2 separate regions of the Homo sapiens genome follow, and region 1 is linked to region 2. The links come from fine-mapping of genetic effects on gene expression. A gene starts in region 2. The other region holds a variant in brackets. All regions are shown on one strand. Distances are from middle to middle.

Evidence for each region.
Region 1: its variant is fine-mapped to the expression of KLHL42 in whole blood (INTERVAL, PIP 0.90).

Annotation. Positions count from the first base shown.
Region 1 is chr12:27,801,383-27,817,207 of GRCh38, reverse strand. It overlaps KLHL42 (kelch like family member 42), which reads right to left. Exons shown (of 3, transcript NM_020782.2): 3 at 14,168-15,825. LOC105369709 (a long non-coding RNA gene) reads left to right here. Exons shown (of 3, transcript XR_931459.3): 3 at 5,807-5,893. It also overlaps the pseudogene RN7SKP15. Among named protein-coding and RNA genes, the nearest start is that of MANSC4, 29 kb to the right of the region's middle. RefSeq lists enhancers at 9,584-9,753, 12,124-12,293. The variant G/A (reference allele first, on the strand shown) is at 10,236.
Region 2 is chr12:27,773,655-27,789,479 of GRCh38, reverse strand. It overlaps KLHL42 (kelch like family member 42), which reads right to left and starts at 9,247. Exons shown (of 3, transcript NM_020782.2): 1 at 8,278-9,247. The coding sequence starts at 9,149. It overlaps MANSC4 (MANSC domain containing 4), which reads left to right and starts at 9,244. Exons shown (of 4, transcript NM_001146221.5): 1 at 9,244-9,270. RefSeq lists an enhancer at 8,731-9,230 and silencers at 9,096-9,405, 9,426-9,645, 12,078-12,278.

The DNA.
Region 1 (15,825 bases), 28 kb before region 2:
CAAATTCATGCAGCAAATCACATACATCATCTTTTCCCCAAAACCTAGTTTCCACTGAGTGACATCTTCATCCTGCAAGTCACTCAGAGTTAAAATCTCAGATAAAAAATTTCAGAACCATCTTTAAGAACTTTTCAACCCCAGACCCGCCCCAACCAATCATCAGGGCCTATCGGTTTCGTCCAACTGTCTCTCTCTGAAATCTTTCTCAGTGGTTTACTGGTCAAATGGTTTCCCATAAAATGAATTTCTTTAAAGCTTTCATTTGCAGTGTTTGCCAATTTCTGTGGTGTAAATATTTCCACTATGGCCAATTTCAAGCTACCAAAGGTTTAACATCCAGCTCCTAAAATACTTAAAAATTTAACAATATGTTCGTGAGAGCCAGGGCTCCTTTCTAATTCTACTGCTGCCTCCTTACTTCAGTCACTTTTTATTTCCTGAACTATTTAGAAGCTGCCCACTTCTGGCCCCATTACATCTATGAATAAAATACTTTATTTGTTGTTTATAAAACAAATGCCAAGAACCTCATCTAGTGTGCAAAGCCTCGCACAGTAGGGTCTAATTTGCCTTTTTCATCTCATCTCCTCTACACTCCCCACCCACCACCTCCTCCTCCACACTCACATACATACACACACACGACTCTTATGCCCCAGCCCCAGAGAGACACTTAGCATTCTCTCAGCAATGCACAGGGCAGTTCAGTTCAAAAGACTTTTAACAAATACCTACTAATACAGTTTGGATATTTGCCCCACCCAAATCTCATGTTGAAATCTAATCCCCAAAATTGGAGGTGGGGCCTGGTGGGAGGTGACTGGATCATGGAGGTGGATTTCTCATAGATAATTTAGCACCGCTCCTCTGATGCTGTCCTTGCAATGGTAAGTTCTCACCAGATCTGGTTGTTTAAAAGTGTGCGGCACCTCCCCCACCTTTATGTTCCTGCTTTTGCCATGTGATGTGCCAGCTCCCACTTCACCTTCCACCATGACTGGAAACTCCCAGAGGCCTCCCCAGAAGCAGATGCCGCTATGCTTCCTGTATAGCCTGCAGGAACATGAGCCAATGAAACCTCCTTTCTTAGCCAGGTATGGTGGCTCACACCTGTAACCCTAGCAATCTGGGAGGCCAAGGGAAGCAGATTGCTTGAGCTCAGGAGTTCAAGACCAGCCTGGGAAACATGGCAAAACCTCATCTCTACAAAAAATATTTACAAAATAATTAGCCAGGCTTGGTGGCTCACACCTGTGGTCCCAGCTACTCAGGAGGCTGAGGTAGGAGGATCACTTGAGCATGGGCAGAGGTTGCAGTGAGCCAAGATCGTGCCACTGCACTCCAACCTGGGCGACAGCCCTGTCTCCAAAAAGAAGAAAAAAACAACAACCTCTTTTTTTTATAAATTACGTGGCCTCAGGTATTTCTTTATAGCAATGCAACAACAGCCTAATATACCTACCATGTGCCAAATATTGTGCTAGGCTAAATAAGACATGGTCCCTGCCCTTCAGGAACATAGAATCCCATGTACTTTCATTCTCTGTGGTTATGTTTACACTATTACTTCAGTCAGAAACTCCCATCTCTGCCTTTATTCATTCAAAAAGCATTTACTGAGTGCCTACGAGGTGCCAGACTTTGTGCTAGGTTCTGGAAAGACAAAAATGAAAAAGACACAGTGTCTACCTCTGCCTACTAAGCCAGACAGTAGTGGGTGATGTGCAGGTGTAGGGAGGGAACTCCAGCTCTCTTGTCCTGTTGGGATCAAGGAAGACTTTGCTGAGAAAATAGTGCTGTAATTGAAGATGAGTACAGAATTTGTTGCTGAAGGAAGACAAAGGTCAGATCATAAAGGGCTCTGTAAATGTCATGTTTCCTAGTTGATACTCCTTATTACAGAATCTACCTTGATTAAACAAGGGAAAAACTGATTATGAAGATACAGATGCCTCTGATGCAATCTGGTGAAAAACTGAACAGCCAGGTCCCAGGAAGAGCTGGAACTTAGCTCCAGGACCTCAGTTACACAAGTTTACAAGCTTTTACTTCAAAGCTCTGAATTAACGTGACTGAGCCCCCAAGAGCCTGTTCTCGTGTCTCTCAGTTTAAATGCAAAAGAGAATCTGATTGGCCCAGCTTTGGTAAAGAATGCATCCTGCTTCAATCAGCTACAGCCAGGGCAGGATCACATGCAAAAAATGATCACTCAGAGAATAGAGATCCCAGGCTCAGCAGATCACCTCAAAATTGTCTCCTCTTGTCAGAAATATAATTCCCCAAGCCTGGGGACAGAAAAATGACAGCCAATTTTATTCATTAGGAATGCTTTTGACTGCAAATGATACAAACCTTGTTATAATGGCTTAAGCACAGAAAAATTAATTATTCTCATACGCCAGGAAATCCAGCTGTAGGGATTACAAGTGTTCATTCAGCAGAACTCCAGTCCTAACACTGATATCTCTGTGATTCTTTTGACTTCTCATAATCATGTGCTATTGTAGTTTCAGTTATGACTTACACATTCAAAGCTTTAAAAAGAAGAAAGAAAGGTACGAACTGTGTTTCTTCCCTTTGATCAGGAGAGCCCAAAAGATTTCCTAGAAACCTCCCAGGATACTTCTGCTTAGTTATCATTGCCACACCTAGGTCACATGACCACACCTCACAAGGGGGATTGGGGAAACAGGAAATGAAGTCTCATAGTTGGCTGAGATTAATCATGAACATGAGAAAAATAATTGAGGTTTGTGAGTGTCCAGCAGCAGACAACTGGATAAAATAAACACAGTATATATACACAATGGAATCCTATTTAGTCATGAAAAAGGAGATCCTGTCTTCCTTCTCTATGCGGATGAGCCTGGAGGACATCGTGTCAAGTGAAACAAGTCAGGCACAGAAAGATACCACCCATTCTCATTCCTATATGGAAGCTAAAAAAGTTGATCCCATAAAAATAGAGAGTAGAATTGTGGTTACCGGAGGCTGGAAAGGGTAAGAGGGAAAGGAGAATAAAGAGAGGTTGGTTAAAGGATAGAAAATGACAGCTGGATGGGAGGAATAAGTTCTGGTATTTTATGCACTGAAGGATGACTATAGTTAACAATAACTTGTTGTATGTTTTCAAATAACTAGAAGAAAGGATTTTGAATGTCTCCAACACAAAGAAATGAGAAATGTTTAAGGGGATGAATATGCTGATTACCCTGATTTGATCATTACACATTGTATACATGCATTGAAATATCACTCTGTATCCCATAAATATGTAATAATATAATTATTATGTGTCAATTAAAAATAATTTTATATATATACATAAATTACAGTCTGTGTGGCAGACAGACTCTAGGTGACTCCCAATGATGGTATTTATACCCTTGTATAATTTATTTCCATTGAATGTGAGTGGGACCTGTGATTTTCTTCTAGCCAATAGAAATGACAAAAGTGATGGGGCATCACTTCTGATTACGTTGCATTATATAAGATTCTGTCTGGCTAAGATTCATGCTAGAGACTCTCTCCATAGCTGACTATGTTGGGAGCCCCATGTGGCAAGGGGCCGAGGATGGCCTCTCACAGCTAAGGCAACAGGAAGCTGGGATTTTCAGTCCTATGACCATAAGGAAATAAATTCTGCCGACAACCTGCCTGACCTTAGAAGTAGGTTCTTCCTCAGTCAGGCCTCTAGATAAGAATGTAGCCCAGGGGCCAGGCACAGTGGCTCATGCCTGTAATCCCAGCACTTTGGGAGGCTGAGGCAGGTTGATCACTTGAGGTTAGGAGTTCGAGACCAGCCTGGCCAATATGGTGAGACCCCATCTTTACTAAAAATACAAAAATTAGCCAGGCGTGGTGGCACGCACCTATAATCCCAGCTACTCGGGAGGCTGAGGCAGGAGAATTGCTTGAATCCGAGAGCAGAGGTTGCAGTGAGCCGAGATTGCGCCACTGCACTTCAGACTGGGTGACAGAGCAAGACTCCGTCTCAAAAAAAAAAAAAAGTTCCAAGAACTTGAGCATGGCCACAGATGCCTGCATGGAGGTCAGGCTCACCAAACTCTGTTTCCTTCCAATTTAACGTTTGAGGGTTTTACTGCATTGATGAGTCAAAGACTGCAAGGTGTATACTCTAATTTCCGTTTTTCCTTTTTTCCTTAGTAATAGATCCTGTATCTGTTTTCATCCGCAGTGTAACAATTTATCACAAACTTAGCACTTTAATACAATACCTATTAGTTAATGCACAGTTCTGTAGGCCAGAAGTCTGGCATGGCATGACTGAGTTCTCTGCTTGGAGCATCTCAAGGCTAAAATCAAGATGTTGGCCATCCTGAGTTCTTGTCTGCAGACTTCAGAGAAAAATCCACTTTTACATTTAGCGTTTTTGTCATTGTCAAGATTTGGTTCCCTGTGGTTGTTAAACTGAGACTCTCGTTTCCTTGCTGGCTGTCGGTGGGGTCATTCTCAGCTCCTGGAGGTACCCACACTCCTTGCCACATGGCCCCTCCGCCTTCAAGCCAGCAATGGCACGTCCAATCATTCTCATGCTCCTAATCTCTGACTTCCTCCATCTCTGACTCTAGATCTAGATTTAAGGGGCTTTTTTTTGAAGGTCAAGCCTACCTAGATAATCTCCGTATCTTAAGATCAACTGATCTGATATATAACATAATCACAGGAGTGACATTTTGTCATATTCACAAGTTCTGCCTCCTACTCAAGAGAAGGAGATTATACAAAGTAAAGATCACCGGGGATATTGTAGAGCTCTGTCTACCACAGACCCCTAGCTTTTAGCTTGACATGTGGATCCCCTAATAAAGATGGCATTTCCCAGCCTCCCTTATAGCTAAGCAAAGCCGTGTAGCTAAGTATTTGCCACAGAAATGCTGTATACCAGCTTCCAAGAGATCTGAAAATACCGCTGGTGTTCAATATTTGTCTCCTTATATTTCGATTCCTTCTTGCCATCTGGGATGTGTCATTTAATGGCTGGAACTCTAGCATCAACTCTAAACTGTGAAATGACAGTAAGAATGACAGTCACATATTAGGATGGTGGGGCAGTAGAATAGAAAGAGCTTGGGGTTCCTAAACCCCATTAGAGAGCTAGACCCAGTGGTGGGCTGGTAAGTGGTAAACAACCAGCTCTCTGGAGGGCGAAGCCCTGATTTGCAGCATGTGCCAATGTCAGTGACGTAAAATCCTCCACAATGGCCAATTTCTTTTTTCCTTTTTTTATTCCTTCTTTCTTTTTTTTTTTTTTTGTTTTTTTTGTTTTTTTTTTTTAGAGATGAAGTCTCACTATATTTCCCAGGCTGGTCTCAAACTCCTGGGCTCAAACGATCCTCCTGCTTTGGCCTCCCAAAGTGCTGGGATTACAAGCATGAGCCACTGCACCCAGCCACACCAATTTCAAGTTACCAGTGTGACATCATTGAACATAGGACTGAGAGGAGGTGCAAATAACCCATTCTCTCAAGTTGGAATAAGCCAGCTGCAGCCACCACTGGCTGTCCTGGCTCTGCACTGCTTATCCTCCAAGCTGCTTTGTCCTCAGAGAAAAATTAACTTCTATCTTATATAACATACTGTTATTTTAGGGTATCTGGCACATGCAGACAAACCTGATTCTATGGTAATGTTCTCCAGTCTTCTCTTTCAGCATTGAAATTTTCTTCACTGGGGGTTTTCTGGGTGCTGAATGCATTTGGATCTAGGCAGGACAGTGGGTATGTGGTGCCAGGTTTTACTCTACACAGCACTCACAGCAGCTGCCGTTTCATTTCAGCCTTCTGCTAGTAAGATTGACCCTGCTCCTTATACAGTAGAGCCCGAATAACTTTACAAACTTCAGAAGGAAATAGAAGGGCAATTGTGCCAGAAAGACAATAACCACCATGCTTTACAGAGACCTTTGAGCAGGCACCATGATGGAAAATATTTTGAAGCGATGCAACAAATCCAGGAGTATGAGACATTAAAACCCCACTTCATTTTACAAAGCTGCCTCTGAAGATCGGTGAAGCTTGAGACCCACAACAGAGCAGAAAAGACTTCAGAACAAATAAACATCAGCACTGCTAGAAAACACCTACTCACCTCTCTGAAAACTGAGCTGGGAAAACAAACAGTCTTTCTTTACATTTTAGTGGCTCCGAATCACCCTGCATGAATCTGCTGCAGTGGAGGGTCTGGCCGTTTTCCCACCAGCCCGGAGGCACAGAGAGCCAGAATACAGCATTCCCTCTCCATCACAGGCATTCACACCAGCAGTGCTGGCTACACTGTGACAGGACAGCTTGGTGGCCACACCCAAATCCAGAATCCAACAATGGCACCAACAATCCTAGGAAATACACAACCTTCCATTTAACTGCTTCAGATCTCTTCCTTCCAAGCATCTCTTCCAAAGAAAATGCGATCTGGAAGTCCTCCCGTACTTCTCTGTGTATGAGTTTGTTTTGTTGTTGTTGTTTGTTTGTTTGTTTGAGATGGAGTTTTGCTCCTGTCGCCCAGGCTGGAGTGCAGTGGTGCGATCTCAGCTCACTGCAACCTCTGCCTCCCAGGTTCAAGCGACTCTCCTGCCTCAGCCTTCTGAGTAGCTGGGATTATAGGAGCCCACCACCACGCCTGGCTAGTTTTTGTATTTTTAGTAGAGACAGAGTTTCACCACGTTGGCCGGGCTGGTCTCAAACTCCTAACCTCAGGTGATCCATCTACCTCGGCCTCCCAAAATGCTGGGATTACAGGTGTGTGCCACCACGTCCGGCTGAGTTGCTGGTTTGTTTTTTTTTTAATAATAGCAATGACTACTTGTGACCCGCCTGCACTCCCTCACCAAAGCCCCTTCTGCAGACATGCCAGATAATGAGGAAGGGGAGCAAGTCACTAAATAACTGGATTTCTTTCAGGGGCACCTTCTGTGAGGTTATGACCTTGATGACCTAGGAGTAGTGATCACAAGAAATATATGCAGCTATCACATATGGAACATCTAGCGCATGTGAGATCCGGTGGGAAGTGTTTACAGACATTTTCTCTGGTAATCCTCACAAGAAACCAATAAGGAAGCTGGCATTATTACCAGCATACCACAAATGAAGAAACTGAGGTCTGTAGGGTTAAATGCAGGTCACTAGCTAGTGAGAATAAAACTGGTATTTTCATCCAGGCCGTTTGACTCCAGAACTCTCAGAAAGGGATATCTGGGGATAGCATTCTGGATCATTCCAGAACAATGCTAAGCATAGGACAAGGGCGTGCATGTCTAGGATGGACTGAGTGCAGGGCCATATCCTCAAGGCACACAGGTGAAGCACTGTAATACTTTTGGAGGTCCATAAAAATGTTTTCATTGTAATTTATTTTAAAACCAGAAGAAACAGCTGGGTGTAGGGGCTCATACCTGTAATCCCAGCACCATTTTGGGAGGCCAAGGTGGGAGGATTGCTTGAGTCTAGGAGTTTGAGAACAGCCTGGGCGACACAGTGAGAGCACCACCATCTCTACAAAAAATCAAAAGTTAGCCAGGTGTGTTGGCACAGGCCTGAAGTCCCAGCTATTTGGGAGGCTGAGGCGGGAGGATAGCTTGAGTTGAGGAGGTCCAGGCTGCAGTGAGCCATGATCATGTCATTACACTCCAGCCTGGGCAACAGAGCGAGACCCTGTCTCTAAAAATATAAAAAAGAAGAAAAACATGAGTATAACAATAATGAATGGGTAATAATGAGTCCAGCCTGGATTATACTGGTCATTATACAGAGTCGTAAAATATGATTTTTAATCTTGTTTTACCAAGGAAGGGACCCATGAAGGCAAAAATGCCGAGGGCCCACAAAAGTCATGAGATGGCTGGAATCCGGGGTAATGTAGATGGCATTGCTGTGGGCAATAACTAGATGGGAAAAAATGTAGAATGTTCTCTCACAATTAGGCTGCCTTGGTTAAAATAAAACGTGTTCCAAATCAATGCCTCAGAAGGATTATGGAGTTGCCACAGTTTGGGCTGTGAAATAGTCCGTGAAGATAATAATAAACAGTGCTAATGAATGTTCCCCATCTGTTCTTTCTCCCCTTAATGGCTATCAGATAAGAGAACGGAATAAATCAGCAGCCTTTGTACGCTGTCTAATATGCCATAATGTGAGCCCTGGCCTTGGGTCTGTTTGTGTTATTTTCTTAAAATAGTCACAGAGAAGGCCCCTGGAGAGTTCCTTTTTCCCATGACCTGCCCAGACCAGAAGGCTTAGGATGACTCTGGTCCTCAGAAACAAAAGCCAAAGAAAAAAAAAAGCCAAGAAACCAGGCATGGTGGCTCACGCCTGTAATAACAACATTTTGGGAGGCCGAGTTGGGGGGAATCACTTGAGGCCAGGCAGCCTGGCCAACAAGGTGAAACGCCATCTCTACTAAAGATACAAAAATTAGCAGGGCGTGGTGGCATGCACCTGTAGTCCCAGCTACTCAGGAGGCTGAGGCAGGAAAATCGCTTGAACCTGGGAGGCAGAGGCTTCAGTGAGCCAAGAAGGTGCCACTACATGGGCAACAGAGTCTTTCTCTGTCTCAAAGAAGAAAAAAGAAACCTAAGACAAAGGAATCAGGTGATTCCCGGGATTAGAACAACACTGTCTTGACTCTACCACTGAACACTTGGCTTTGCTCTGAAGAATCCCCCTCCCTCAATGGGTACGGTCTCGGTGAGACTTCCCAAGGGGCCCCATCCCATCCCCAGCCTAGGGCTGGACATGTGACCCCAGCAGGACAATCAGGGTGCTCACTCCTTCCATTTCCATTCAGGGCTCATGGCACGAGACCTAAAGTGGGTTGGAGTTTCTGTCCCATTGGTGGAGCCCCGAAGAGATTGTCCTTGAGTTCCCAACTGCCAGAGCTGCCATCGTTTCTGTTTCTTTCATGTCCTATTAAAGATTGAGTTAAATCCTATCTTTTTAGTAACTTTTCTTTCCTTCCCTTCCTTCCCTCTTTCCTTCCTTCCTTCTTTCCTTCCTTCCTTCTTTCCTTCCTTCCTTCCTTTCCTTCTTTCTTTCTTTTTTCTTTCTTTCTTTCTTTCTTTCTTTCCTTCTTTCTTTCCTTCTTTCTTTCTTTCTTTCTTTCTTTCTTTCTTTCTTTCTTTCTTTCTTTCTTTCTTTCATCAGCTAGAGTCAGTGTCTGTTGGTTTTTTAAAAAATCCTGACTGGTGGGTACCTTCCAGGTACTGGAAGGTGACAGAAATTAGCCTCCATGGGACACTGAACACTGACAGCACTGAATTCATAGACATTATTTAACATCTGTACCTGCTAACTCATGCACTCAGCTAAGAAAGGTACCGTGTTTTTTCATTAAAAGTTGAAATCAAGGTAAGGCTAACGGTCTACGGCCATACCACCCTGAACATGCCCGATCTCATCAAACTATGGCTAACGGTATAGGATTTACCTATCCTGTTCTTTCAGACTTGTAATTATTAAAATGACATTATTAGGCATTAAAATGACACGCATCATGGGGATGTGGGGAGGTGGGGAAGGTAGGCAACTCAAAGCAAACTTCATTTCAGGCAGTGCGCCCCTTCTCAATGAATGGCATGTGAAGCAAACAGCACATTTTAAAAGGTTTTTGAGATAAGATTTAGTACCTGTTTTGAGCTGAACGGTGCCCCCTACCTCCTTAAAAAAAAAAATCAGCGTATCTTTTTTTTTTTTTTAAGGAGGCAGGGGGCAGAGGTTGCAGTGAGTTGAGATCAGGCTACTGCACTTCTGCCTGGGAGACAAAGCAAGACTCTGTCTCAAATAAATAAACAAAACCAACAGACAAACATATACATACACACCAGATTGTATAAGAAAAGTCACCACCAGCCACAGACCACTTGTTATTACAGTGCCTCTTTCTAGATCTCTTGCCTCTGACTTCTTGTCTTCCTACCCAGCAGCACCTCGAAATCCACCAGGGCTGAAAGTAGCCTGAGCAGCGGAATCTCTGCCCCTAGACTTCCTCAGGAAACCCTTCACAGGCCCACATGGGGGTCAGACCACACTTTCTGACAACAACATCGCCTACCTTTTCTACATCTCTTTCCGCTGGCATTCAGATTCTGAATAACTGTGTATTTGTGCCATTCAATTCAGATTTTAGAAAAAAAAAAAAACAGTTCTACGAGTGACAATAATATCACTCAAGCCCTAATATTGATTCTAGTGATGAGAAAATAATGAAGC[G/A]ACGGGGCTCCATTCCCATTTGCCTGCGGGGCCCCCTGAACTCCTAGGCGTTTGCCTCACTACTGTCTGTGGGCAAACTTCCTTTCCAGCCACAGCCAGAATTCGAAACTTCTCCCATCTGCGTGACGCATTATGTACGTTGGTAGAAGAGAAAAGTACACTGTTTTCCTAATAACCGTTGTTCCTCAAGAAAACACTTTTTTCCTATAAGGAAATTTTAGGGCTACATAAACCAGAAACCTATATATTTTCAGAAAACCCAAGGAGGCTTCAAAACCTTTCCAATTTAACAAATACTTCCAGAATCTGCTGTGTTACATGGCTCTGGTGTATGTCCTGACATAGAGTGATAAAAAGATTAATGAAACACTCTATCATCAAGGAAACTACAGTCTAGAAGAGGAATAAGACAAGCACATAAGAACTGTTCTATGAGACAAATATGTGTGCCCTGAGAGAGAGATAGCTGAAGCTGTATCCAGGAACAAGTATTTTCAGAAGGCTTATCTTCCATAACACTGTAAACCAACCAGCTAGCTCACTTACCAAGACTAACAGCTTCCCCATCAAGGCTAGCTTAGGGGATGTGAGGGTGATCTGCCTGTGACAACTCTCACCCCACTGATCGCCAGGGTTGATTCGACTGATCTGGCTGGCTAGATGGGTGACCCCTTCCTCCCTCACTGCTCCATGTGCGTCCCTCCCGAAACTCCACGCTCAGTCGAAGAGGACAACCATCCCCAATAGAGGAGGACCAGTCTTGGGTCAAGGGTGTATGAGTAGCTGCGCTCCCCTGCTGGAACCTCCAAACAAGCTCCCAAGATTAGCTTTGGGACTCTCACTGCATTGTGCCCACAAAGTCCTATGCCCAAAGTTCTTGTATCAGAAACTCTGCCCAGTGTTGAGACCTACTTCAAAATCACCCAGCCCAGGCCCCAAAACCTGACATTCCCCTTCTGAGGCACTACTAATTCTTTTTCAAGGTGGTGTCCTCCCTGACCACAGTAAGCATAACAAACTTGGCTTTGCTTGACCAACAGGTTATCTAGCTGTTCCTTTTGCAAGTCAAGAGTCAACACCCCTTTCTTCTAGTAAGCAGACCCCTATTATCTGAGATGACTTCATTCCACGTGGTTGAACTGGAGATTCTCCTCCATGCCCCTGGCCACAGTGGTTACCTCAGAAATGGACACATTACCTGGGCTGGTTCAAACAAGTCTTAATAAAGCGTTTGGTACTTAGGATGGGATGTTGCAAATATCTAAAGCTGAAATATGGAGCCAGCTAAAGCAAGGGAAGGGATGGGGTAGATAGAATCTTCTCATCCCTGACCTTATGTGGAAAGCAAACAACTAATTATGCTGCTGTCTCTTGGGCCTCAGACCACTCAAGTTGGCTCCTTTAGGAGAAGTGAAAGACTTGTACCAGGATCTGGAATTTGTTAGCTACGTCTTAATGGCTTTGCTAAGATATTTTAGGAAAGGCATAAGCTTCCAGCCAAGCTGGCCCATTTGAAGGTATAAAGGAAACAGCTTTGGTAATAATAACAACAGCTCACATTCATTGTGTGTTATGTGCCAGATGCCATTCTGAACACATCACATGAATTTTCTCATACAATTTTTTGCAACAGTTTCACAGGGTGGATACTATTGTTATCCCTACTTTACAGATAAAGAAACTGAGGCCTGGGGAGACAAAGTAGCCTAACCAAAGCTACAGCTAGAAAGTAGCAGAATTGCCAGGCGCAGTGGCTCACGCCTGTAATCCCAGCACTTTGGGAGGCCAAGGCGGGTGGATCACGAGGTCAGGAGTTTCAGACTAGCCAGTTCGAGATCAGCCTGGCCAACATGGTGAAACCCCATCTCTACTAAAAATACAAAAATTAGATGGGCGTGGTGGCACACGCCTGTAATCCTAGCTACTTGGAAGGCTGAGGCAGGAGAATCACTTGAACCCAGGAGGCGGAGGTTGCAGTGAACTGAGATCGCACCACTGCACCCCAGCCTGGGCAACAGAGCAAGACTCCGTCTCGGGAAAAAAAAAGAAAGAAAAAAGAAAGACAGTAGCAGAATTAGGAAGCAAAGTCTTGCTCTAGAGTCCATGCCTTTCACCCTTTTGCCTACAGGCAGCAGACTGCAGAGGATCAAACATGTGCCTGGCAGAACTATAGGAGCCAGGTTCTCTGCCTTAGTTAAAGGGGCATGAACAGCCAGAAATATAGTAAGATCGGGCTCCCGGAGGAGGCAAACTAATAGAGTGGGGGCCCTGGCGCAGTGGTTCACATCTGTAAATCGCAGCACTTTGGGAGGCCGAGGTGGGAGAATCGTTTTCTGAGACCAACCTAAGCAACATAGCGGGACCGCATCTCTATAAAAATTTTTTTTAAAAAAATTTTTAATTAGCTGGGTGTGGTGGCACATGCCTGTGGTCCCAGCTACTCAGGAGGCTGAGGTGGGAAGATCACTTGAGCCCAGGTGGCCGAGGATGCAGTGAGCTGAGATCGTGCCACTGCACTCCAGCCTGGGTGACAGAGCAAGACCCTGTCTCCAAAAATAGAGAAGGAGGAGGAGGAAAAGGAGGAGAAGGAGAAAAAGAGGAAGAAGAAGAAGAGGAAATAGGGTGGGTATTTTATTCCCCAAACACCTCCTGCCACACAGAGGTAATCATTTCTACTAATGCTGCAGTCCCTGGGATGTAGTCTGGGAACGGCAGACCCCTATGGTTTCAGATTATCCCAAAGCTAAGAGAGAGATTGACGCCATCAAACTGAAGGTGGAGGCATGGGCAGGAAGCCTGTGGCTAAGAGACAGACATCATAAAGATGGGCTCTAAGTTAAAGAAACTGGGCTCCTCTAAATCTGGGCCTTTATCCTATGGAGTTGCCGGAGATCAGATTTACCAGCATCTGAGTTTTTATTTATTTATTTTTTTAATAGAGACAGGGTCTCATTGTATTGCCCAGGCTGTCCTTGAACTCCTGGGCTCAAGCAATCCTTCCACCTCAGCCTCCCAAAGTGCTGGGATTATAGGTGTGAGCCACCGTGCCCAGCCTCAAATGGGTTTTTAAAGTTTTATTGCCAAGGAAATGTTGATGGCCTACAAACAGGAGCCTAGGATCCCTGGCCTCAACAGAAGTGTTCAGGTGCCCCTCCACACACCTCCTGTAACCATGCCCACAGGAAGAGGCTGCCACTTCACCCCCAGGCAGGTCAGCCATGGAACGCGCTGCTGCAAAGCAGGACCAGAGGCTCCCAGACTGGCTCACTCGGAAACCCACTCCTCCACTAGCAAGAGAAAGGATACCCTTTAAACCAGTGACCACTGTATGTAGTTTTCCCTTCTCCTCTTTCTCAAGTGGCAATTTGTAACCTACAGTGCCTCAGTTTCCTCAACTGTAAAGCGGAGGATATTTGTATTTACCACATGGGATTCATGTGAGGATTAAATAATTTAAATAAAAAATGCTTAGAATAATTCCTGGGAAAAAAAAAAGTGCTCAGTTAGATTTGGGTGTCGCTCTGCTAGGTCAGCCATCCTCCTTCTCCTCCATCAGTGTGTCCTGAGTGTGTAGAAAATGGTTGTCCATTTATTTCATTTTTCTTGAGTTGGGGTCTTGCACTGTCTGCCCAGGCTGGAGTGCAGTGGTGCAATCAGATCTCACTGCAGCCCCAAACTCCTGGGCCCAAGCAATCCTCCTGCCTCAGCCTCCCAAGTAGCTGGGACTAGAGGCATGCACCACTGTATCGGCTAATTTCTTTTATTTCTATTTTTTGTAGAGACAGGATTTCACTGTTGCCCAGGCTGGTCTCAAATTCCTGGCCCCAAGCAATCCTCCCACCTCAGGCTCCCAAGTCACTTCACCCATTTCCTCCCAGTCCTGGCACAGCCCTGCATACGTAACTGATACATAGAACTTAGATAACAAAAAGTGACTGAAAACTACTTTATTTGAAGACATTTTCTTCTATAGTTCTAAACACAAAAGGAATGCTGTTATAGTGGGTATTTCATAGGCATTCTTGTATTCAAATGAATCACATAATGTTTACACTTTTAAGCTAGACTTGAAATTGAAGACTTAATACAACCTTTTAACAAAGAAAGTATCAGTCATATCAAAACATAACTATTCATTCTACAGATTATCACTTTCCCTAAAATGACTACTAGATATGAAAACATTGCAGGGACAGCTCAAGTGCCCCATTCTTAAGGGTTTTTTTTAATAGGAAAAATGACAACGTAAATCACATTTTCCTTTTCTTTACTAGTAATGAACTATGGCAATCCATTTGAGAAAGCACCAGCCAACCGTACAAGTCATTTCAGCACCCTTTGCTCTTCAAAACTGACCATCTTTTATATTTAATGCTTCCTGTATGAATAAAAATGGTTATGTCAAGTACAGACGTCAGCAACGTGTCAGTTGGTGTGAATTTATGATGTGTTCCTAAGTCAACAGAGAAAATAAAAAAAATCTCTCATGTGAATAAAATCTAAGGATGAAAAACTATCCTTTGATAATTATCACAAGGCAAAATCAACCACCTTTTCATCAGTACTAGTGTGGAATGGAAATTTCTTTATTAATACTTTTTATGGGAATGTTTTAAAGGCATAGGTATAAATGCACATGCAATCAGCTTGCCCCTCTTAGATACTAACTTCCCCAGCTTCACTCCTCCTTTTCACTGGAACAAGCTGCTGAATCCCTAACTCCAAAGTCTGCAGTGCTTGGTGAGCATTTTTAAATAAAGATTATATGTGATTTTCACTTTTTCACAAAAATGAAGTACAGAGAAGACTGAAAAGCAGTGAGAAAAAAATCATAGAGCAAAAAACTAAAACACAAGATGTGATGTTCAAATTTAAAAGAAAAACAAAACTGGTTCGTGATGATTGTTAGTAAATCACAAAAACAAAGGACGGACAGGGCCAAGACCGAAGGGACCACCAGACCACCGAGCCCCAATGTGCCAGACAAAAGTGGGCATCTTTGAGAAGGACGCCCTGGTGAAGACAATTACAGTGAACCTCTTTATAAGGCCGTAAGCTCTTCAAGGTCATGGGCCGTGACTTATTTATGTCTGTATTCTGTTCTTAGCATTGTCTTGCACATGACAGACACTCAGTATTTCTGGTAACCACAGAACTGGAGCTCAATCAGCTCACTGCTTTCAAAGTCATTTTGGTTGGTGTCTACCCACTTAATTCTTTCACTCCTCTGTCTAAGGCAGGGATGGCAAATAGCCTTCATTTCACTCTGATGGACTGGGAATAGATGTCTGGAAGCACCAATCTGACATGGATTCTAAGACCAAATCCTGGCACAGAGGACAGGAATGCTGCACTCATTCATAATGCCTCCTTAAAAGAGCGGTGGCACAGGTGTTATATATTCCCCATTCCTGGTCTAGGAAAAAGGCATCCAACACCTACTTATATTCCTTTTACATTGCTATGCTGCCTCTTGAGTGATCTGCATTAAGCCACTGTTCGTTAAATGCTGGTTGATCAGGAAGACCAAGGCCTTTCCTCTCAATTTACGTCTTTGGCCAAACAGGTAGGGTCAGAACTTCACCTGGAA
Region 2 (15,825 bases):
TCTCTCCAGACCCCAACACGCTCAAATTCACTTGAAGAGAAACACTTTTTAATGCTGAATTTGTTTTAAGATGAAATTGCCACCTAAAAACAGACCATTTAATAAAGAGGCATACTGCTAAAGGTTATGAGTCCAGGCTTACACAGGGAAGTCTCAGACATCACACATCAATTGCTGTCTGACCTTAGACAAATTACTGAATCTGTTGATCTGTTCCTCAGTTTTCTCATCTGTTAAGTAGGGATAAGAAGGGCACAATATCTGGCATGCAGTAAGAGCTGAAAAGGACAGCACTTGCAGAGATAAGTCTTTCTCCATTGGCATTCTAGGGAGTGCTTCTCTGGGTGTCCTAAGTCTAAGTTTTTCTTAACCTTGGGAGCGTTGGTTTCTCATTTGTCAACTGCAACAGTCACTGACTGTGATGTTTTGTGCTCTCTCATCCACAAATTCTCATCACTTACTGCTTCATTTCCAACTTTCTGAAAATAATTCTTCCACTCTTCACCTCCTGAATGGTAAAGGTATAAATTCAAGCTATCAACTACTTTTCAAAATTATCATCTCTACAGTGTTTTCTTAATTTAACACACTATGTTCACGAGGTAAAAAGAAGAATTTCAAGACCAAGTAACAAGTCATCTATCATAGCTATATACTTGTTCCTTGCAATAAATAAAAATATTATCATTAGAATTTCTGTTTTAAGTGAGAAAATTGGATAAAACCACAATTGAATTTCAAGGTCACTTATAAGAAAAATTTTTTTTAAAAGGAGAGCTTTTTAAGAGACAGGGTCTCGTTTCATTGCCCAGGCTGGAATGCAGTGGCCTGATCATGGCTCACTGCAGCCTTGAACTCCCAGCCTCAAGCAATCCTCCTGACTCAGCCTCCCAAGTAGCTAGGCCACCGTGCGTGGCTTAAAAAGCTCTTTAAACCCCTAAAAGCTAAGTAACATGAAACATGCTTAACACCAGCACGCAGATCTCAAGGATTAACAGTAGCTACATACAACCATAGGAAGGCAAGATGACACAGAGGTCTGGGTGGCTTCGAGTCTAGCCCTGTGATTATGTGGAAGGTAATTAAACTCACTGAGCCTCAGTTTCCACTTTAAGGAAATGGGATTAATAACATCTACCTCACAGAGATGTTGTGAGCATTAATATGAAGTGACACCTCAAGTTGTGACTACAATACCTGACCCAGAGTAAGAGCTCAAGAAATGAAAACCATCATTATGACCCCCTATGTAGAGAAAGAAGTTTGCTTACCATCAGAGTAAAAATTAGAACAAAATGCCAAGATCCTTTCAAAAGTCCTTTCTCAACCACTCAGAACACGACTGCTTAAGTCTGTGGGCCATCCAGGTCCTTTTGTCTCCTCTTTCCCCTTCATCTACTTGCCTTCTGCCATGTCCCTACGCATTAACTTCCCCTAGGGACTAGGAAGGGGAGAAGGGGAAAGGTTAGAAAATAGAGGTAGTCATTGTTGCAACCTATGCCCAGCTCTAAGAAACTCCAAAAGCAAAGATGCAAAAAGCAATTTAAACTGTTGGCCAAAATTAAATGGGGAGTTGGGGGGGAGTGTGAATAGACGTACAGTTTTCTTTCTTGCACTATTCCCAGGCTCTACTACAACATCAACCACAGAAATGCTCCAAAAATGGTAAACATTGGCTGAGAGGAGAAGGGACAGCTCAGCAAACGCTAAGGCTGACAACTGCAATTCCATCTCTGCCAGGAGACACTTGTTTATTAAAGTCTCTCTCTCAGCCTTGCTGTATTCACACATGGAACAGGAGGACTCACTCCAACTCCATTTTCAGAGCTAAAGTGCAGGGCAATGGAAAAGACTAGAGAAAGCTCTGGAAATGGAGAACCTTAATGAACCAACTGCTGCAACAGTGGTCAGTTCCTGCAAGTTATCACTGATTAAAGGGAAAGCAAGCACCCTCGATCTCACAAGCTTTTTTTTTTTTTTTTTTTGAGACAAAGTCTCACTCTGTTGCCCAGGCTGGAGTGCAGTGGTCTGATCTTGGCTCACCGCAACCTCCCCATCCCGGTTTCAAGCGATTTTCCTGCCTCGGCCTCTCAAGTAGCTAGGACTACAGGTGCCCACCACCATGCCCAGCTAATTTTTGTATTATTAGTAGAGACAGGGTTTCACCACGTTGGCCAGGCTGGTCTCGAACCTCTGACCTCAGGTGATCCGCCTGCCTCAGCCTCCCAAAGTGCTGGGATTACAGGTGTGAGCCGCCGTGCCTAGAGGTCTCACAAGCTTTTATGTGTGAAGAGTTACATCCTGACAATTTGTGAGATCAAACCCACGTTCAGACCATCAGGCAGTGTTGCACACTTGGCCTACAGAGCAAAACATTTCTTTTTTACCCTCTGATGGTCATATAGCACCCACTATCTTCTCCAGAGTGCAGAAGGCTTTATAAAATCTCTCAATTGGCCGGGCGCGGTGGCTCATGTCTATAATCCCAGCACTTTGGGAGGCCAAGGCAGGCAGATCACGAGGTCAGGAGATCGAGACCATCCTGGCTAACACAGTGAAACCCCATCTCTACTAAAAATACAAAAAAAAATTAGCCAGGCATGGTGGCGGGCACCTGTAGTCCTAGCTACTCGGGAGGCTGAGGCAGGAGAATAGCGTTAACACGGGACGCGGAGCTTGCAGTGAGCCAAGATTGGGCCACTGCACTCCAGCCTGGGCGACAGAGCGAGACTCTGTCTCAAAAAAAAAAAAAAAAAAAAACTCTTTCAATCCCAGAGTTCCTGCTATTTAAGATTCTGGATCACTGCACTATTCAGTCCCTGGGAAAAGTGAACTGCTCTACATTTGACCCCTTTATCAAAGTAAAATACTGATACATCCCAAAGCAGTCTCCGACAAAGGTGAATCAAAGTAGATGTGAAATTCTGCATAGCCAGAGGCCAAAATCTGGTTTTCTTTCTCAAGGTTCCAAATTTCTTCCAGTGCATGCATAACCTGTATTGGATGCCTCATCCAGGAAAAACTCTGTGCTAGGTTTCATTTTTACTTGTCTCATCACCTAAACTCAATTTTAAACTTCTTGAGGGCAGCAATTACGTCATCAGTTTCTGTACATCCAACAGTGACTAGAAGAATGCTGGGCTTAAAGGCTGTCGTGGAGCTGAGGCACACATGATGAAATTTTGAAAAGTAGCACTGTACCACAAAAGATCTGTGCTCTATTTTTTAGAAGGAAATAATTTTTTTTAAAGAAGGGGGGAAATGTGCATGAAGATGGTCCCTGCAAGTCTAAAATCCAAAACTTATAAACAATTTAAGTGGTTATAACTACTCAATGGATATTTACATTTTGGTTGCTGTACTTATTACACATCCTTGAGCAATTTACTTCTCTGTGCCTCACTTTCTGTCTCTTTAGAATGGGAACCTGCCTAACAGCCCTTGTGAAGAATAAGTTAGATAATTCATGCAAAGCAGCGGGAACAGTACCTACTGCAGAGTTAAGTGTTCAATTAAATGATGTCTCTCATTATTTCTCAGCTACTCTAAATAAATATAATGACTGTTACCAAGGTAAAAATGTTCACTATAGTGTTACAAATAAAGCGAAATATAAAATTATACATTAACTTTTATTACAATAATGTAAAAATATATTCCATAGTTTTTTTTAAAGAAAACACGTATTTTAAGCACCTATTATTATTGGACATCTTGTTAGGAGTAGGGCTATACATAAGCATTGAGTAAGTCCTAGTTCCTGATCGGAAGGCAGAGAGACAACAACAGAGAATTTCAATTCAAGTCGGGGAATGTGCATGAGATGCTAGAGGAGCAGACACGGAACACTCAGCCCAAGCCAGAGTTCGGGAAGGAACTCCTAGGAGATATGTCATACCTGAGTCAAAGCAGAGGGAACTAAAGAAGGGTACAATTTCCAATACAGCATCAATAATCAATTAGAAGATATAATGGAGGGTCAGGCATGGTGGCATGTAATCTTAGCACTTTGGGAGGCCACAGTGGGAGGATTACCTGAGGCCAGGAGTTCAAGACCAGCCTGGGTAACATAGCCCCCATTTCTACAAAAGAAAAAATTTTAATTTTAAAAAATTAACCAAGCATGGTGTTGCATGCCTGTAGTCCCAGCTACTGGGGAGGCTGAAGCAGGAGGATTGCTTGAGCCCAAGAGTTGAAGGCTGCAGTAAGTTATGATCACACCACTGTACTCCAGCCTGGGTGACAAAGCAAGACCCCATTTCTTTAAAAAAGAAAAAATAAAGGGATATTTGGATGTCTGGCAACATTTCCTCCCTTCCCCGTAGAAGTAACCAGCCATGGTTGAGAGGTGGAGCCCTCTTTTGGTGGGGCGATAGCTCTCAGCTTCATCATAACTCCCACCCACCCCTCTATGCAACAATTTCACCTACCCAGTCACTTTGGGATCTTATTTTTGAACACTGCAGAAAAAATAACAGCATGGGAAAACATGCACGACATTACATAACAGACAAGAGATTAATATCTGTATTCACACATAGAACTTCTCAAATGAATGTGAAGAAAATAAGCCAATTTTTAGGAAACTGGCAAAGACCATTTACAAAAGAAATACAAATGGCCAACCAACATATAAAAAGAATAATCTCTCTTCTAATTGGGAAAAATCACACTAGTGTTTTTGCCCATTAGGTTTGGGGAAAAAAAGATGATAATATTCTATCTTGGCAAGAGTATAGGGAACTGGCAAGCACAAACACTTTTGATGGAAGAGGAAATCAGAACAATTTTTTTGATGGGCAATTTGGCGGGAGCAACCAAAATCTATTTATTTATTTATTTTTAACTGTTTATAGAGATGAGGTCTCACTATGTTGCTCAGGCTGGAGTGCAATGGCTATTCACGGGCCCGATGAGAGTGCACTGCAGCCTTCAGTTCCTGGGCTCAAGTGATCCTCCTGCCTAAGCCTCCCAAGTAGCTGGGACTACAAGCGTGAACCATTGCACCCAGCTTCAACAAAATTTAAAACATGCATACACAGCTGGGCGCGGTGGCTCACAACTTAATCCCAGCACTTTGGGAAGCCTAGGTGGGCGGATCACGAGGTCAGGAGATCGAGACCATGCTGGCTAACAAGGTGAAACCCCTTCTCTACTAAAAATACAAAAAAAAAAAAAATTAGCCAGGCGTGGTGGCGGGCACCTGTAGTCCCAGCTACTCGGGAAACTGAGGCAGGAGAATGGCGTAACCTGGGAGGCGGAGCTTGCAGTGAGCCGAGATCGCGTCACTGTACTCCAGCCTGGGCAACAGAACGAGACTCCGTCCCCAAAAAAAAAAAACAAAAACAAAAAAAAAAAACACATACACTTTGCCCTACCTATCCAGGGATTCCACGAATTTGACATATGAAACTAACTCACATATGGCTACTAAGATACATGCACGCATCTACCAGGATGTTCAATGGCAGTGCTTATTGAAACATCCAATGCAAATGGAAGTGACCTAAATGTCCATAAATAAGGGAAGGGCTAATTACATTATGGTACATCCATAGGCTGGAATGCCACGCAGCCATTAAAAAGCGTGAGGTAAGGCCGGGCGCGGTGGCTCACGCCTGTAATCCCAGCACTTTGGGAGGCTGAGGCGGGCGGATCACGAGGTCAGGAGATCGAGACCATCCTGTCTAACACAGTGAAACCCCGTCTCTACTAAAAATACAAAAAAAAATTAGCCGGGTGTGGTAGCGGGCGCCTGTAGTCCCAGCTCCTCGGGAGGCTGAGGCAGGAGAATGGCGTGAACCCGGGAGGCGGAGCTTGCAGTGAGCCGAGATCCCGCCACTGCACTCCAGCCTGGGCGACAGAGCGAGACTCCGTCTCAAAAAAAATAAAAAAATAAAAAAGCATAAGGTAGATCTACATTTGTTGACACAGAAAAAAAACTCTCAGATATGGTTAAATGGAAATATCAAGTGCCATAATAATTAGTACAACCTAGACAATTTCAGAATTTTTAAAATGTGTAAGGTGATACACCCCCGTGCACATTAATATACATAAACACTTTTCCCCTATTGTTAACCACTATCAATATACTTATACAGCTGATCCTTTAATAACACGGGTTTGAACTGTGAGGGTCCACTTACATTCAGATTTTCTTCTGCCTCTGCCACCCCGAGACTGCAAAACCAACCCTTCCTCTACCTCCTTTTCCTCCTCAGCCTACTCAGCGTCAAGATGATAAGGATGATCCACTTCCGCTTAATTTTCTCTTCCTTAGTTTATTAATAACATTTTCTTTTCTATAGCATACTTTATTGTTAGAATAAAGTATATACTACATATACAAAATGTATTAATTGATTATGTTATTGGTAAGGCATCTGGTAAACAGTAGGCTATTCAGTAGTTAAGTTTTTGGGAGAGTCAAAAGTTATATGGGGATTTTTGACTGTGCAGGGTTTGGTGTCCCTGGCCCCCACATTGTTTAAGGGTTAACTGTATTTATACAAGTATACATATAATTTACAGTATAAATGTTTATACATTTATAATATCTAAAGGTAACAAAAGTCTGTTGATACACTGACACTTTTTTTCTGTACCCTGAGGGCAGACATTTACTCTTTTTACTCCACAGTTTTGTGTGTAATTTGCAGTTTTTCTAAGAATCATGCATTCATGCATTACTTGAATGCTTTTTTTTTTTTTAAGGGGATGAAAAGGGCCTTCCTAGAAAAAAAGACAAAGACTACCAAGGATGTATGAAGGGAAGAAAGAAGTGTGAGGAACTGTGGCACTAAGGATGGCCTGGTGAGCACCAAATGATGTGTAGCTAGAGGAATGCAAGAGGAGTGAGAGAACTCAGGGCCGCCCACCCCTAATCAGACCACCACCCATGGCCACACAATGTTCCTTTGTTGTTTCAATTACAGTGCATAGAATTTGTTTTAAAATAACACTTCTGATACCAAATTTTAAATATGGTATCATCTCAATGGTGTAAATAATGCATTAAAAATGGGCTGGCAGGAAATATGCCAACCTGGTTACTGCCTCTAGGAAGAGCGGGTAGGAATAATCATCTTTTTGCTTCTTCATTCTTTTCCATTTTCCAGTTTTCTGTAACTATGTATTATCAGGGGAAAAAGCATACTTTTCAAAATGAATTTCATATTATAGGAGAAATAAAGCCAGTTATTTCCCCCAAATAATCCCTGGCCGAGGAGGACCCTCGAGTCAAATAAACAGATATATAAAGGATTCTCTGTTACTGTTAAGACTTTCTTTGCCCAGCTGTGAGCTCCCCAACTCCTTGCTCCACACTTCAGGACCAGGACCCTGTGAGGATTGAGATGGAAACACGTGGATGGGAAGAAAGGGTATTTTCATCCTTTCTTGAGTTACATTGATTCTTTTCCCTGCTTCTGAATGACGCTGAGGCCTCCTAGGCGCTACCATCTTTATTTCCTACCATCTCTTCCTGTATATGCTCTTTGCTCTTGTTTTGATATTCCTTCCCTGGTTCCTTTCCCTTCTCCCCTCTCATCCCACTCCTCAAGCTCCTCCTCTTCCTTTCTTCAAGTCACCCTTGTTGGAGGCAGGAGAGATTTGCAGGATGGGAGGGGGAGAAGGTTGCGTAAATGAAAATATTCCAATTCTGTAGTTGAACACTTCCAGGCTCAAGCTGTGGGTCATGACGATGGCTGTCCAGGGAAGGAAGCAAAAGAGAGGATAAAAAATAAGAAAAGCAACCCCTATTGCAAACGTTAATACATTTCCAGTGATTATCTCTTGATCATGATGGGTATCACAGTGTGGAAGACTCTGTTGTCACAGTCACTGACATCAGAAAAAAATCCCCCAAAGTCAGTGTTACAGGTTACTGTCCAGTGTATCATTATCATCAGGATCAAATCCTAAAAACTAAGACAAATTTTTTAAAAATTAAGGGGCAATTTTCTTTTAAAGTATTCTTGTAGGAAACCACAACATCTTTTTTCACAAGAACAGAGGCAAAGAAAGCAGTTTCACCTAAAGGCACAATACCTGCCAAAAAACCACTCCACTTCTTGACCTCACTGGGGACGTCCTCTTCGCAATTTCTTAGTTCATTGGGAATTTTGCCAGCGCCAAGGCCAACAACATTCCTGAAGATGTCATTTCCACCACAGCACACCCTCCCCTATTTACTGGCTCAGTAAACACTGGGGTAATGAACTAATGAACAAGTGAATGAATGAGAAGGCAGCAGCACTCTGCCGGGGTGCTTACCTCTTCTGGTTCATGGAGGCCACCTGGAGCCACTCGTTGGTGCTGGGGTTGTAGGAATGCGCAGCGGAGATCTCCTGGCTAGTGATCCTGTACCCGCCCACTATGAAGAGGTAGTTGTCCAGGATGGCAGACCCATAGCCCCTGACATTGACCAGGTCGGGAGGAAGGTTGTTGGCCAGCGGGAACCAACGCTCAGTCATCTCCTCGTACCTGAGCATGGACGGGGGCTCCCCCTGGTAGGGGTGAGGGGCCAGGGGTCCCCCCAGGAAGTCCCCGAGGGCCACGAGGACAGGAGTCCCAGTCATCCGGGCCTCCCTCAGCCTCTGCTTCAGGCTGACATCCCCTGGAGCTTGGGGAGGAGACCCCAGGAGGTGGAACTGGGGCTTGCACAGCACCTCGTGGAAGTGGACGACCATGAAGCGCAGGCAGGCCTCCTGCAGGTCGGGCAGCCCGTACACCTGCGCCAGGCGGTACATCTCCAGGCAGTTATTGAGCCGCACCTGGGACAGCAGCAGCTGCAGCAGGGACGTGACCTGCAGGAAGGAGGCCGCCTCCACCAGCTCGGACAGCAGGCTCACCTCATCCATCTCCTCGTCCTCGTCCACCCCGCCGCCCTTTTCCCCGCGCGGGCCCAGGAGCCAGCCTTCGCGGGCCCCGCCGGCGTTGATGAAGTCCAGCACCAGCCGCAGGCCCGGCGCGCTGAGGCCGCGCAGCTGCTGCACCTCCGGGCCGCCGGCCTCCTGGCTCAGGGCCTCGCGCATGCCGGAGCGGTAGAGGGCGCGGAAGTAGTCGCTCTGCTCGATGAGCTTCCTCTTGCTCACCGGGTAGCAGCGGTCCTCCAGGCGGATCTGCACCATCTCCTCGGCCGACATGGCTGGGGGCCCCGGGGCGGCAGCGCTCACCGCCAGATCTGCGCGCCGGCCTCCCAGCCCCTACGCGCGCGCCGGTTCCGGGCGGGGCGCCGAGGGATGGCGGCCCGGGAGGAGCGGCGAGGTGAGGGCCGCCCGCGCTCGCCCGGCCTCTCCGGCGGCCCCTCCTCCCGGGGCCCGCTCCCGCGAGGCGGCGGCCCTGCCCTTCTCCTTTCCCTCAGCGCCAAAAAAGGGCCGGCGGAGCGCGGCGGGCGTCCTCGCGCGGGCTCTCCCGGGCGGCGCCAGGCGGGAAGGGAATTCCAGCTCCCAGCCAGCAGCCTCCTCCCCCGCCGCCCTTCTCACTTCCGCCCGCGGGACCCCAGCCGCCGGCCTGACCTGCCGGCTGGATCCGGCTCTCGGGGAGGCCCGGGAAGCTGCGGGCCCGGGCGCCTCGGCTGCGGACGCGCAGCTGCGGGAGGCGGAGGGCGCGCGTCCCCGCAGCCTCTCCGCCCGCCCGGGGCGCGCCGGCTCCGCCGCTTGTTGGGGGCTGCAGTGATGCTCCGGGGTACCCCAGGGAGAAGAAATTCGTTTTCTCTCCCACGCTGCTTTACACGGGCTAAAGAAAAAGAAATGAGCGTGGGAGGAAAGGGAAGGATGGAGTCTCTGGTCCAGGGAGACAAAAAGGCATCAAATATGGGGTCGTCCTTCTGGCCCAGTCCGGCATCGAGTGTCAGTGGGCTGAGGCACGCAGGCGATCTATGGACAGTTGGTGGCAATGTTGGTGGCACGTAGAGCTGATTCTCTGGTAGCGTGGTCGCGTAGGAGCCATCTTACAGGAGGTCCAGGCAGATGGCAGCAGGTTCTCAGAGGAATCGGGTTGGGAGGCAGGGGAGCTTGCATTTGCCACTGGGGCCCCTTATTCTCCCTAAGTTATTAAAAGAAAGATGAAAGCGCAGCCCGACTAAATAAAGTTACATCACGTGGCTTCTGGTTTTAAACCATGTTTTCTATGAGCCATTGCTTTTCTACTTCAGTCCAGTCCATTACGGAATGTTATCCTGGCGCAAAAGATCTGACAAAATTGGCTCATAAATGTCTGCAAGAAGTAGCTTTTCTTGTCACCCCCTTTCTCCACCTACCCTGCCCCCATCATCTGAGGACTATTAAGAGAGACCACACGTGCGGTTTGGCTGAGCGCGGTGGCTCACGCCTGTAATCCCATGACTTTGGGAAGCCCAGGTGGGCAGATCACGAGGTCAGGAGTTCGAGAGCACCATGGCCAACATGGTGAAACCCCGTCTCTACTAAAAATACAAAAATTAGCCGGGCGTGGTGGCACGCGCCTGTGATCCCAGCTACTCGGGAGGCTGAGGCAGGAGAATTGCTGGAACCCGGGAGGCGGAGGTTGCAGTGAGCCGAGATCGCGCCACTGCACTCCAGCCTGGGCGACAGAGCGAGACGCCGTCTCGGAAAAGAGAGACCACTTGTTTCCTATGTTCTCTCACTGAACATTGCAATTAGAAGGCCCACCCCAAATAATAATAGGAAGGACTTTTTGTCTTGCTAATGAATTCATCCCAGGAAGGGGGTGGGGGGAGAAATATATTGTTTGGATTATCTTTGGGTAGGAGAAGGGAGAAGGATTGGGAGGAAGCAGAGGGTGTGTTCACTCTTATCTTACAAAACAAAAACAGAAAACCTTGAAAACTTACCCCAAACCAAGATTTGAGAACCACCTATGATAAACAGTCCTTAACTTGGAGAGAATATGTGTTTGGTTTTTTTTTTTATTATTACAAGCTTCAGCTTTCTTCTTGAATGACAGATTGTTAAATAATATCTTCTTCATAAGTACATTTCCCCTATTTAAAGAAGATACATCCTACCATGCTAACATTTTACCTTAGGAAGGAGAAAGGGTTAAAAACCAGAGAACTAAAAGAAAGTCAAAGGTGAAACATGAGATCCTTTCAACATAGTTTGGTTACATTTGTGGTTCTTACTACGAAATTTATCTGCTTCACAGAGAGGTGTTGTTGTCATCTTTTACTTTGTTTATTATTATTACTTGGGAAAGGAGGTTTATCTTTTTATTTTTTAGAAAAAAAAATGCATTTTTTTTTTTTTTTGAGACAGAGTTTCCCTCTTGTTGCCCAGGCTGGAGTGCAATGCTGCGATCTCAGCTTTCTGCAACCTCCACCTCCCGGGTTCAAGTGATTCTCCTGCCTCAGCCTCCGGAGTAGCTGGGATTCCAGGCATGAGCCACCACACCCGGCTAATTTTGTATTTTTAGTAGAGACGGGGTTTCACCATGTTGGTCAGGCTGGTCTGGAACTCCCGACCTCACGTGATCCACCCACCTCGGCCTCCCAAAGTGCTGGGATTACAGGCATGAGCCTCCATGCCCAGCAAAAAAAAATGCATTTTTTTTTTCCATAGAGATAGGGTCTTGCTACCTTGCCCAAGACAGACCTCAAACTCCTGGCCCCAAGGGATCCTGCCACCCCAAGTGATCCTGCTGCCTTGGTCTCTCAAAGCACTACTGTGCCTGGCCTATTTTCTTTATAATAATGCTAGGAATAAGGAACTAAAAAATAAAAGACATAGAAAATGTTCTAGTAGATTCTGGCCTCCCTGGAAAAAAATGAAGGAAATAAAAATGGATCTATGACTTACTCAGTTGTTTTCTTGGATTCTATAAAAAACATTCATCTCTTCACCTTGTTTCACCTGGCCTTTAAATCGTTACTGATAAAACTCCATTTTCACATCAACCCTTCACACTTCCATTCTCTATGAGGGTGCAGTGAGACACGATAAGCTTTGGAGCAGGAGGTGGAGTGAGTGATCAAGCATTTAGCAGCTTCTTTGGGATGGTAGAGTGTAACATCCAGTATTAAGCATCAGGCTGGGGAATTTTGCTGGGATGCGTCCCCTGTATCAAAGAGACTTGGACCTACGATTTTTCTATGCCTCAACCGGCAACAATGCCAGATTCAGTGGGTCAGCCACAAAGAACAGGCTCTCAGTCTCTCCTCTGTCTCTTGAATCTTTCACCAATGGATGCTTTTGTTTCCCAGCCGTCATAGATATGCCTCAGACTGGTATTTTCTTGCCTTTTTAAAACAGACCAAAAAAATCATGCTCAAAGAATGATGTGCATTAGAAAGGCAATTCAAGCACAGTAACATTATCAGGGTAAGATGAGGTTGGACAGGGAGTCTGGGGTATTAGTCTCACAATACTGGGCATTGATCTTGTGAGTTTTTTTGGCTCCCAATATGATAATAACATTATTTAGGATTGGGAGCATCTTAAATGATCAAATCATTTTAATAAATTATGCAGTAAGTTTTCTGTTAAGCTAGAAATGCAAAGTCAGAGCAATATAAACTCCTTTATTTTAAAAAGACCTAAAATTATTCCTAGTCTTCCTGAAAATATTGCTTTATATAACTGGAGGTATAATTTTATAGATCTGTTATTGACTGATCATTGAATAATAAAAACCAGTTTTGTGGTACTATCTGTAAAACAGTTTTACAGAAGCGTAATGGTCAAATAGAGTTAGGTAATTTTTATTTTTTATTTTTTATTTTTTTAGACAGGGTCTCACTCTGCCATTCAGGCTGGAGTGTGGTGGCACTATTATGGCTCAATGAAGCCTCCCAGGTTCAAGTGCTCCTCCCAGAGGCCTCCCAGGTTCAAGTGCTCCTCCCACCTCAGCCTCCCAAGTAGCTGAGAATACAGGCCTGCGCCACTATGCCCGGTTAATTCTTACATTTTCTGTGGGGACGGGGTTTCACCATGTTGCCCAGGCTGGTCTTGAACTCCTGGGCGCAAGTGATGCTCCCTCCTCAGCCTCCCAGAGTGCTGGGATTACAGGTATGAGCCACCACACCCAGCTGAAGTAGGTCATTTTTTAAAGAACTTATGGAAAATATCCCTTTTGAAATAGCAAGTAGAAAAAAAAATCTTAGTACAAGATGTTTATCACAGTATTGCTTTTAATAACAAAAAATTGGAAAACAACATAATGTATAATAATAGTAGCTAATATGTATTGAGTGTTTAGCATGTGCCAGGCACTGTTGTAAGTGCTTTACATGGATTACAGTACTGTTTTTATATTTTACAGCTGAGGAAGCTGAAGTGCAGAGTAAATTTTGGTATGGTAGAATGAAATACCAAGGAGCCATTAGAAGTTTTTGTGTAGATCTTTCTTTAGGATCACTGAAAAATATACTTTTTTTTTTTTTTTTTTTTGAGACAGTCTCGCTCTTGTTGCCCAGGCTGGAGTGCAGTGGTGTGATCTCAGCTCACTACAACCTCAGCCTCCTGGGTTCAAGCCATTCTCCTGTCTCAGCCTCCCAAGTAGCTGGGATTACAGGTGTCTGCCACCACGCCTGGCTAATTTTTGTATTTTTAGTAGAAACGGGTTTTCACCATGTTGGCCAGGCTGGTCTTCAACTCCCAACTTCAGGTAATCCGCCCACCTCAGCCTCCCAAAGTGCTGGGATTACAGGCGTGAGCCACCACGCCTGGCTGAAAAATATACTTTTACATAAAGTTTAAAAAAAAAAAACAGATTTTGGAACAGCATATATGATTCCCTTTATGTAAACCTATATACTGTAAAATAAAATTTATAGGAGGCCAGTGCAGTGACCGATTCCTGTAATCCCAGCACTTTGGGAGGCCAGGGCGGGAGGATTGCACAAGCCAGGAGTTTGAGGCCAGCCTGGGCAACATAGTGAGACCTTGTCTCTACAAAAAAATTTAAAAATAAATAAAATGTATAGACCATTGGTTTGTTTAGTATTTATTTGAGACAGGGTCTTGCTCTGTTGCCTAAGTTGGAGTGCAGTGGCACAACCACAGTTCACTGCAGCCTCAACCTCATGGGCCCCACCTCAACCGGCTAATTTTTTAAAATTTTGTAGAGACAGGCTCTCCCTATGTTTTCCAGGCTGATATCAAAACTCCTGGGCTCAAAGCAATTCTCCCTCTTCGACCTTAGAAAGTGTTGGGATTATAGGTGTGAGCCACCGCACCAGCCAAGACCATTGGTTTGAACTGAGCTCCTGCACTAGCCCCAACAGATGAAACCAAAATGGAGTTACTCATGGTGATGTTCCATGATGCCACCAAGCCAGAACCAAGATCTGTATCTGATCTTTGAAAAAATCAGGAGAGAGATAATAACCAAATCCCCAGACAGGCCGCTTTTAACCAGTATGATAAGGCAGTGCCCTCTGCTTTAACCTTTACAAGGAAAGTAATCTTATTTATTTATTTATTTATTTATTTATTTATTTATTTATTTATTTTGAGACGGAATCTCGCTCTGTCGCCCAGGCTGGAGTGCAGTGGCGCGATCTCAGCTCACTGCAAGCTCCGCCTCCCAGGTTCACTCCATTCTCCTGCCTCAGCCTCCCGAGTAGCTGGGACTACAGGCACCTGCCACCACACCCAGCTAATTTTTTTGTATTTTTAGTAGACACGGGGTTTCACCATGTTAGCCAGCATGGTCTCGATCTCCTGACCTCGTGATCTGCCCGCCTCAGCCTCCCAAAGTGCTGGGATTACAGGCGTGAGCCACCGTGCCCAGCCCCTGCTTTTTATTTTCTATTTCTGCTTTCCTCAGCTCTTTTCCATCAACAAAGCCACCTCCTCTGCTCAGTTTATTGGATTTTATAGAATGAGGTGTTGCCCTATTCTGGAATCACAAATAAAAGCCAATTAAGGTCTTTAAACTAAATTTGTTGTAATTTTGTATTTTGACGTTCATATGTTTTTTTAAATAACAATATCCAGAAAGATGTTTATTAAGATGGTAAGTGCTTGAATAGTTTCTCTTTTTGTATTTTTCTATATGATTTGAATTATTAAAGTGAACATATGTTGATTTAATAGAAGCAAAAACATTTTTAAAGAAAAAACATTTAAGTTTTTCAGGTACCATTTTTTAAAAAATAATTTTTATTAATTTTATCAGCAAATGAAATGGAAACTCTCAAAAAATAAATAAATAATTAATTAAAGGTGAAATATTGACTGCTTTCCAAATGTCTTGAATTTACTAAAGCTATGCTATTACTTCACTACTATTTAAAAATTATTTCTCTTTGTTTTTTCAGTTCCTCAATATTCCTAAAACAACTTTATTTCTGGGGTTTTTTTTTTGTTTTGTTTTTTGGTTTTTTTGAGACAGAGCCTTGCTGTGTCTCCCAGGCTGGGGTGCAGTGGTGCAATCTCGTCTCACTGCAACCTCTGCTGCCCAGGTTCAAGTGATTTTCTTGCCTCAACCTCCCGAGTAGCTGGGATTACAGCCGTGTGCCACCACACCCAGCTAATTTTTGTATTTTTAGTAGAGATGAGGTTTCACCATATTGGCCACATTTGTCTCAAACTCCTGACCTCTAGTGATCCGCCCATCTCAGCCTCCCAAAGTGCTGGGATTACAGGCGTGAGCCACCATGCCTGGCCTATTCCTGTTTTTTAACAAGCAAAACTGAAGTATCTTCCTTTCATCAAAGCTTATGGAGTGATTTAAATGAGATAAAAGTAGTATATGGTCTTTAAATGGTTCTAGTTAACTAGGTTGAGCATCGTTGTTTAGGTAAAAGTTCCATTTATTTCGCTCATCTATCTATATCAGTGTTTCCCAAACATCTTAGGAAATCACCTGGGACTCTTG